Linked DNA regions of Homo sapiens. The protein of the gene in region 2 interacts with the protein of the main gene of each other region in a pairwise test. Each region holds a gene or a part of one and is shown on either strand. Other genes may lie near its edges.

Region 1 (3,807 bases), on a different chromosome or scaffold from region 2:
ATGTTGTGCACCTGTGGTCCCAGCAACTCAGGAGGCTGAGGCAGGAGAATCACTTGAATCTGGGAGGCAGAGGTTGCACCAAGCCAAGATGGTGCCACTGCACTCCAGCCTGGGTGACAGAGCAAGACTCCATTGCAAAAAAAAAAAAAAAAAAAAAAAAATCCACGATGCTACAAAGAAACATTGGATCAGCCATTGCATTGACAGGGTGGAGAACCAGGGTCCAGCCTTGCTTTATGGAAATATATCAGCAAAGTAAAGAAGAAAAGTTTCCGTCCTGATTTCAGGGTGACTGTGCAGCTAAGCAAGCTGACTTAAAGGAGATCCAGATGAAAGCTGAGAGCAGTGAAGCCTGGGGAACAATATTTCCAAATACAAAGGCAAGGCTGCCAGCTTCCTTAAACAGGCATAGAAACTCCATGGACATTGTTCAGGGACAGATGACTTAATCACAGATGACAAGAGATACTGAATCGAAGATAGGAGGCCTGACAGATACTGCCTGTGCACCTCCTGCACTCAGGTGACTATGAGATTGTCACACTTGCCTGGGGTTGAGTAACTTGATACTGGGGACTGGCAGACAAAGTCATGACATTAGCTGAGAAGGACAAAAAAACTCCCTGATATCTGTTTAGAAACCCATCACAGTTTTTTATTCAAATGAATTTGTGTTTATAGAGCCTGTCTTCAGAGTTTATCTTTCTCAGCCTAGAGAGAGGTATGAGACACAAGGAAAACAGAGGCTACCTGGAATAATGTGTACAGCATCCTCCCATTCAACATGAGAGGATGAGCCAATGAGAGTTGAGTCGACTTTGTCTTCCTCAAATGTGATTTTGGTTTTCCTATGTGGCTGGTTGGAGTCATAAGGGCCATGGCTATTTGAATAAGTGATGGCACATTCCTCCAGTGAGTCCTCAGGGACTTCCTTTTCTTCAGCCTTCTGCATCTCCCTGATGAGCCAGGTGGGACAGAGATGACAGAAGATTAAACACAGAGGGATTGGACCCCAGGGAGTCCTAGCTGGTTTTGACAGGCGGCATTAAGAGAGTGGTCCCAGAAAGCAAAATGGAGGTTCCCATTAAGAGGGAACATGCAATCCTGTTCTCTCTGCAACAGAGCATGGCTGCCATGGGAACCAGAGAGGAAGAGAGCAGCTGCTGTTCATTGCACTGGACAGATAGGAGCTGAGGAGGATGAAGACTCAGCTATCCCTGTAAGGTGCAGACATGACACTCAGCACACATAGAGAAACATGACAGCTACCGCACCCTGTGTCTAAGCTGGATTATATTTCACATACTGTGGCCAAGCGAATGCGGGTTTTTGGCCCATCATAGATGCCAGAGAGGGTGTGCCTCCTAGATATTCCTCATATGTTACCATCCATTAATTGTTCCTGAGTATTCAGTGTTACCTGGGGGCAGACGATTTCTGCACTTTCTCAGCCACCTCAACTTGAACATCTTCATCGTCATCGTTGTCATTTTCTGTAAATACAGAAGTGTTCGTTCAGATATTTCCCACTTCACAGTCTGCAAGCACAGTCAGCCCAATGTGCAACAGAGACATGAACATCTAGGCATGGGTCACCGTTCAACTGAAAACTCTCATGTTTTATCTTTAACAGAATGCCCTGCCATGGTTTCCTGATCCATCAGGCAATGCATTTCTGATCTGGAGGGCCACCATCAAGATGTGGCCAAATATTGAAAAGACCTTTTGCTTCCCATATCACTGGAGGCTTGTGCAGCCTCTCTCTGGACGTTGGCAGCTGTCTCCCCCATCCTGCCAGATCTGATTCCCAGGCACAGGCTTGGTGTCCTGTCACGGTTTGCATTTCAAACCTCATTCTTTCTCTTAGGAGAGGACAAACTTGTCCCACAGTCCTCTATGCGTCATGAGACTGCACAGGCCCTCCATGTGGCTTCTGCTGTGTTATTCAGGGACATTCTATCCATGGGGAGTGCTCCAGTCTGAAGCACTTCCTACCACCAAATGCCCCCACATCAAGTGCCTTCTCCAACACCACATGGAGAGGGGCTTCATCTCATTTTGAAAAGCATTCGTAAGTGTTCCCATATTTGGATGCTTCAGACCCTTGCAAGAGACAATTTGTCTGCCTTTGCAGATGGAGAGAGAGAAACTCTGAAAAGATAAATCACTCACTGACACTTACTAAGAACACTGCCAAAAATACAGCCTGGGAACCTTCATTCTTAGCCCAGAGCTCTTTTCACTCCAACAAGCGCCCTTCCATCACAGCCTCCTTCCTGTCCTTTAAAACTAGATAGATGCTGCCTCTTGCTCCAAAGACCACCTTCCATCAAGGAAGGAGGGACACTTGCAATACTGTGACCTCCAAACCCATGGGTTTCCCATCTCTGTTCTTACCCAGGAAGTCCTGATCATGTCATGGCCACATAGGTGTAGTAGAAAAAAACCCCACTGATATAACTGTCATTGTGAAAGTATGGAGGTCTGGAGCCTCTCATAAGCCTGGGGTTTTGGGTCATCAGGGCCTATGGCCACCTTACCTGGGCTGAGCTTTTGGACAAGGTGCTGTGCCAGTCTACACCCCTCAGCCAGCTGTTCTTGGAGGTCCTGCCCCTGGGACTTGTCCGGCTCATCCGGAGTGAGGAGGGCCTGGAGATGCTCATTCAATGAGCGGGAGGCATCTCTCCCTTCCCGTAACTTCTCCCTTAACTGGGTCAGCTCTCGTTCCTGAGAGTGAAACAGGACTTTATATTGCCTAAGGTGAGACGGTAGAGAAAATTTAAGAGTAGAAAGGGTTGAGTGATCCGTTCAAATATTGCAACAGAGACTTCTGAGACAATGTCCTCAAGGAGACCTCCAAGCAGAAGGTCAGCACATGTTGAAAGGAATGACTGTGGCCAAGAGGAAGAATAGAAAATGGTCTACAGGCTTTCCCTCTATCAGAGAGGGCTCCTGCAAGATCCTCGATGATGTTCCATTCATCTTTCTCTTCTGTAAACAAAAGTAGGTGTCTTCCTAATTCCGTTTCAAAAAGACATCCTTTCAGTTCCTCACTCTGGCCATGGACATTTCCATGTGAAAATACACATAGTGCATCTTGCGGCCACTAAATACAAAGCCATGTACAGAAATGAGGCCAGGTGCAGATGGGGCGAATTGAAAAGATGAAAGAAGAAAAGAAGGACAGGGTCAAGAAGGCAACATTGATTGAGTGAAAGAATGAGAAGACGCAGTCAGTCAGGAGGTGATTCTCACTAAGGGTAAGTGGGGTGGTGATAGCACACCATTTTGATTATACTGAATGCTGCTGGGTGGTTCCCACTCCTTTGGTGAATTTTGTGTTATGTAAATTTCACCTCAACAATTACTTGTTTGAAAAAGAGAAAACAAGGCTCTAAGAAACAACTGCAACACAGAACTTATTATTATCCTTGTTCACTGATAAATATTTGTGTGTCATGAGCCTGTCATGGCAATTTCTGCCCTTCCCCTGGCCCAGCTTCGTTCTTATTTCTCCCCGCCGAGCTGCTGTACTTCAGAGATCTACACACCTACCCGCCTGCCCTCCCCCCACGGGGTCCCCTCACCTGAGCTCCTCAGCTTGCTTCAGCTGCTCTGCAAGCTTCTCCTCCTTGAACTGTCGCTCATTCCTCAGCATAAATTTTATGAGGTCTTTACACTCTTCATACTCTGAGAAAAGACAGACACGCCTGCCTCAGTGGAAGGCTGGACATGCTGCTGTGGTCACTGCCTACAGGGCAGGAGCCAGGTCCATCCCAAGGACAAAACTCTCCCCAGTACCAGGGT
Region 2 (4,543 bases):
ATCCCCAAACTCAGCGGCCACCCTCACTCCCATATAGCCCCTCCTCAGGACCCGGCCTCTTCTATGCTTACATGCAAACCCACCTCCCGTATCCGTGGGTGCCAAATATGAGAGGTGTTCAGGGGCAGACTCCAGTTACCGTAGATCTCCTCTGGGGGTAGAGTCAGGGATACACACACGGACCAGGTACAGAGACAGAGAGGGAGAGAAGATGCTGCCATGGCTGCACCCTGGTGTTGACCCGGGACAGTTGCTCAGACCTCCAGGTCTCTGGGCCTCCCCTTTTCCCCAGTGCAGACCCCAGAAGTGTACCCACCTTCCGGGGGGCATTTCCATCTCTCCAGAGCCAGTATGGCTTTGGCTGGAACCAGAAATGCAAAGGCACTGGCCTGGAACAGCGGCAGCCTGGAGGAGAGGCACAAAGCAACAGGGGTGGGGAGGGGCGGGTGGGGAGGAGGGATAAAGATGCGGGGAGAGATCAGGAAGGGAGAGCACAGAGAGAGTGACAGAGACACAAGGGACAAGGGCAGATGGAAATCGTTGAGGCCCCAGGGAAGACCATCTCTAACATTTTGGCTGCCCAAGGAAGAAAACAAATGGAGCCCCCAGCTCAAAACCTGCCCCCTTCCCACCACCAGCTCCTGCACTGTGAGGAGGGGGCACCTGCCCGGAAGTGGACACCTCAGTTCCCGCATCCAGGTTTCTCTCACAATCTTCCCCTGTCCCCCGCTGCTCAAACAGCTCAAATGCCACCCAGGCCTAGGGCTGTGCACTCGGGAGCGTGGGGCCCTGGGAGGGTGGGCTGTCGAAGAGGCTGGCACCAACCCTGGGAGCTAGCTCAGGGCTGCCATCTGGGCAATATTCAGAATGGGGTTTAAGAGGGGAGAGCCGGCTAGGCTTGGTGGCTCACGCCTGTAATCCCAGCACTTTGGGAGGCCAAGGTGGGCAGATACAAATACAAAATTAGCCGGGCATGGTGGCGCATGCCTGTAATCCCAGCTACTCAGGAGGCTAAGGTGGGAGAATCGCTTGAACGCGGGAGAATCGCTTGAACCCGGGAGGTGGTGGTTGTGGTGAGCCGAGATCACGCCACCGCAATCCAGCCTAGGCAACAAGAGCAAAACTCCGTCTCCAAAAAAAAAAAAAAAAAAAAAAAAAGAGGGGAGAGCCAGCGAGGGTACAATCCCTTAAACTTGCAGATGCCTGGTCTTTGAAGTGTGCCTAGATCAAGATTCCCAGGGTTGGGGCCACGCTGCCCAGCTCTAAGGCTGGCCTGGGATAGGAGAAGCAGGTGGAGGCAGAAAGCGGCTTTTTTGTCTCACCAGTGTCCTCTGGGAGCCCACCTGCTCCTGCTGTGTGGATCACAGTGGAGGGGTGGCGGGGGACGGGTTGGGGGGCTGGGCGGCTCACCGGATGCCCACGGTGGTCTGGATGAGAGTGGTGATGCCCACGCACGTGAAGATGGTGCCGATGAGCTGACTAACCATGTGCTGGTCGTGGCCCACACACAGCGCCTCAGCCAGCAGGAAGGGCACGGCGATGGTACCACTGAAGCATGTCAGGTAGTGCTGGGCAGAGGGAGACAGCAGAGTGCATGAGGCAGGACCCCAGAGCTCCAGGGAGAGGGGACAACCTAGTGTCCTCATGCCTGCCTCAGCGGGCCTGGAACCGGCTGCCTGCCCAGGACTGGCAGTCCCCACAAGGGATTCCCAGAGAGCTACTGCTGACCACTCTGGGGGTCACTAATTTCCACTCAAGATATTCCTGCGGCTTCCGTGGAGTCGGCTCTGCTCCCTGTCACCAACACCCCACCTGGCAAGCGTCACACTCCCCCAGGGAGTTCATCTTCTTTCAGGATTCAGCCTCTTCCCGACTCCTGCTTGCTGACAGCCACTGTGCTGACCTCAGGTTTTTCTTCCTGTTACCCAAGATACTCCCTGCTGGCCAGGGAGGGGCTGGAGTCCCCGGGGAGTGTGCAGAGTGAGGGCGGGGAGGCCCTGGGGGACCCACCTGGAAGCCCAGCAGGATGCACAGGTACCAAGGTGGCACGTCCTCGATCTTGTACAACATGTCAAACTTAGGCTCTGTGGGTAGCGGGGTCGAGGGGTCCCTGGTGGTTTCATGCTGGAGGCAGCAGAGATAAGTAGCTTAGGGTGAAGTGATGGGGACAGGCAAAATCCATTCTGCCCCAGAATCAATCAGGCAGCCCAAGTGGCTTGTCAGCAACTGAGAGCGGGGTTCCCGCCCTCCCCAACAGTCCATCCACCCGGGTGCCACTTGGCCTGGCCACAGTTTTCTCCCACTTTGCATTGCTTCCCGCAGGGATGAGTCTACTGTGCCAGCTTCTAGAGCCCTCAGGACCTGCCATTTTAGCCAGGGAAGTGGACCCTTAAGTCAGAAGTCTTGGAGACCACAGGAGAGGGGGCCAAGAGGGCTCAAGACTGTGGACAAGTCCAATCCGGTCCCACCTCTGCCCCCTGGAGATCCTTGGGGTGTCACTGGCCGGGAGATTAGGCCTCTCCTGAACCCCAACCTGGAGTCAGCCAGTCCCAAAGCTGCAGGCTCCTTCACCCCCACCTCCACCCATCCCCCAGTTGCCACATTCAATTTGGGACAGTCACTCTTATCAAGTTCATCAGAACGTTTATCTCTGGCCTCCAGGAAGAAGGCCTGCACAGGCCCTCCAGCCCCCCACCCCCCCTGCCCCCCCTAGCCCCCACCCCCAGCCCCCAGCACCTGTGTCCGGCCCTCGAGGTCCTCCTGGGCCCTCATCTTTGGGGCACAGGTTTGAGCAGTTCCTGAGGAGAAGAGGGGATGACTTGACAAAGGCCAAGGAGGAGGACTTTACTCCACATATCAGGCATTGTTTGAAGTAAATCTGTAACCAGATGCCCAGCTCTGGATTGCGAAAGGGGGGCCCGGGCAGAGGTAATGTATTAACTCTCACTAGGACAGTAAAAGCCACCCAAGCCTCTGCCACATGTGCCCTTCCCTGCCCACATCTGCGCCTGGGCGCTGGACCTGTTCTTGTTTCCCAAGAGAGGGCCAGAGTCGAGGGGGTGAGGACCAGAAGTTTACCAAGCCCCAGGTGAGCGGAGAAAGAGGGAGTGGAAACAGGCACTTATTATGTAACCCCCTGTATGAGGCCCTTCCCCACTGATTAATAACTAGTTCATCATTATCATCATCATCATAGTCATTCTCGTTATTGAGGAATGGCCTTGGCCTTGTGCCAAGAAACATGGATCTGCACTGTCCCAAGTAACCCCTGTGCTGGGCGGTATTAACCCCTTTAACAGCGAAGGAAACAGATTCAGTAGATGTGATTTGACCCAAGCCATGCAGATAGCAAGTTTGCAGAAACCAATCCTAAAATTCAGGTTGGTCTGAGCTGCCTTGCCCTCACCACCCTGCACCCCTCAGGGTCCCTGAGGCAGGCAGCAGATGGGCCTCTGCAGGCAGAGCTGCCTAGGCTGGCCCAGCCGGGTCTGCACTCTGTGTCAGGGCACAGATCCCTTTCCCCTCCCAGCCACATAATTTCTGGGACCCAGTGCAAAGTAAGAATGTGAGGCCTTTATTCCAAAAGTATAAAGAATTTAAAGATAGCAGGAGCATTAGATGGAGCGTGGGGCCTTTCTATGCACCAAGCCCTGTGTGACTGCCCATCACCTAGCCCAGGAAGGCAGTCCTATGCCCAGCCTGTCTCCCCTCCTGGCAGGCCCAGCCCAGCCTGGCCCTAGGGCCTGAGATGGCAGAGGGGGACATGGGGAGGGGCCCTAAGAACTCAGGCTCCTCAGCTGGTGAGGGCTGGGCCTGAGGTCCCCATTCTGTTCCCCTCTGGGCTGCCCCAGCCCCAGCACTCTAGAGCCCACCTACTTCTGGGTCGCTGTGCCCATGGCCAGGCCCTGCCTGAAGGGCCAAGGGGCAGCACCGCTCTCCAGCTGGGCAGCAGCTTCATGCCACAGCACTGAGTCCGCCCGCCTGCCGGTGTCCACACTGTTCCTCTGTCCGCCTGTCCTCTCCTCTCCCTCTTGGCTACTGCTCCCAATTTCCAAAGTTGCTGGACCAGTTTGAAGCCTCTGCAACTCCCCAGCACTTTTCTCTCCAACTTCTCCTCCCAGAACTCCCCAGGGTGCTGTGGAGACCAAGCCCGACCCCCTGCAGATACGGCTCCATGGACACTCAATTCAACCCAAACCACACAACACGCATAGAGAACAAGGTGGAGAACACGGTCCCAGATCCACAGTAGCATGAAGGGGCCCACACACCCAGAGCTGATGCAGCCTCTCTAATCACCCCACAGAAACACAGGTCCACGTCATGGGTGCCCGGCTCCACACCCTGTCCTGAAAGCTTAGTGGGTTTCTTGGGCCCTGACTTTCCTCCTGGTGTCTAGGGTTTCTCTCCTGAGTGAAGGCCACGGATGGTGGGGCTTCAGGCAGGTCCTGGAACAGGTGAAGGATGGAGGGGGCTGAGTGCAGCTCCCAGGGAAGCTGGAGTGGCCAGGGCCTGCCCCAGGCACCTCCATTCCCCCAGCAGC

Evidence for each region.
Region 1: the proteins of SLC23A1 (region 2) and NBPF19 interact in a two-hybrid assay, tested with the Homo sapiens proteins (one large-scale study listed by BioGRID).

What each region holds. Positions count from the first base shown.
Region 1 is NC_000001.11:149,477,828-149,481,634, reverse strand, and holds part of NBPF19 (NBPF family member NBPF19), read right to left. Parts: intron 3,691-3,807; coding exon 3,588-3,690; intron 2,756-3,587; coding exon 2,541-2,755; intron 1,494-2,540; coding exon 1,421-1,493; intron 957-1,420; coding exon 751-956; intron 1-750.
Region 2 is NC_000005.10:139,380,482-139,385,024, forward strand, and holds the start of SLC23A1 (solute carrier family 23 member 1), read right to left. Parts: upstream 2,817-4,543; 5' UTR 2,799-2,816; coding exon of another isoform or gene 2,773-2,798; coding exon 2,737-2,772; intron 2,125-2,736; coding exon 2,011-2,124; intron 1,569-2,010; coding exon 1,411-1,568; intron 406-1,410; coding exon 317-405; intron 152-316; coding exon 84-151; coding exon of another isoform or gene 72-83; intron 1-71.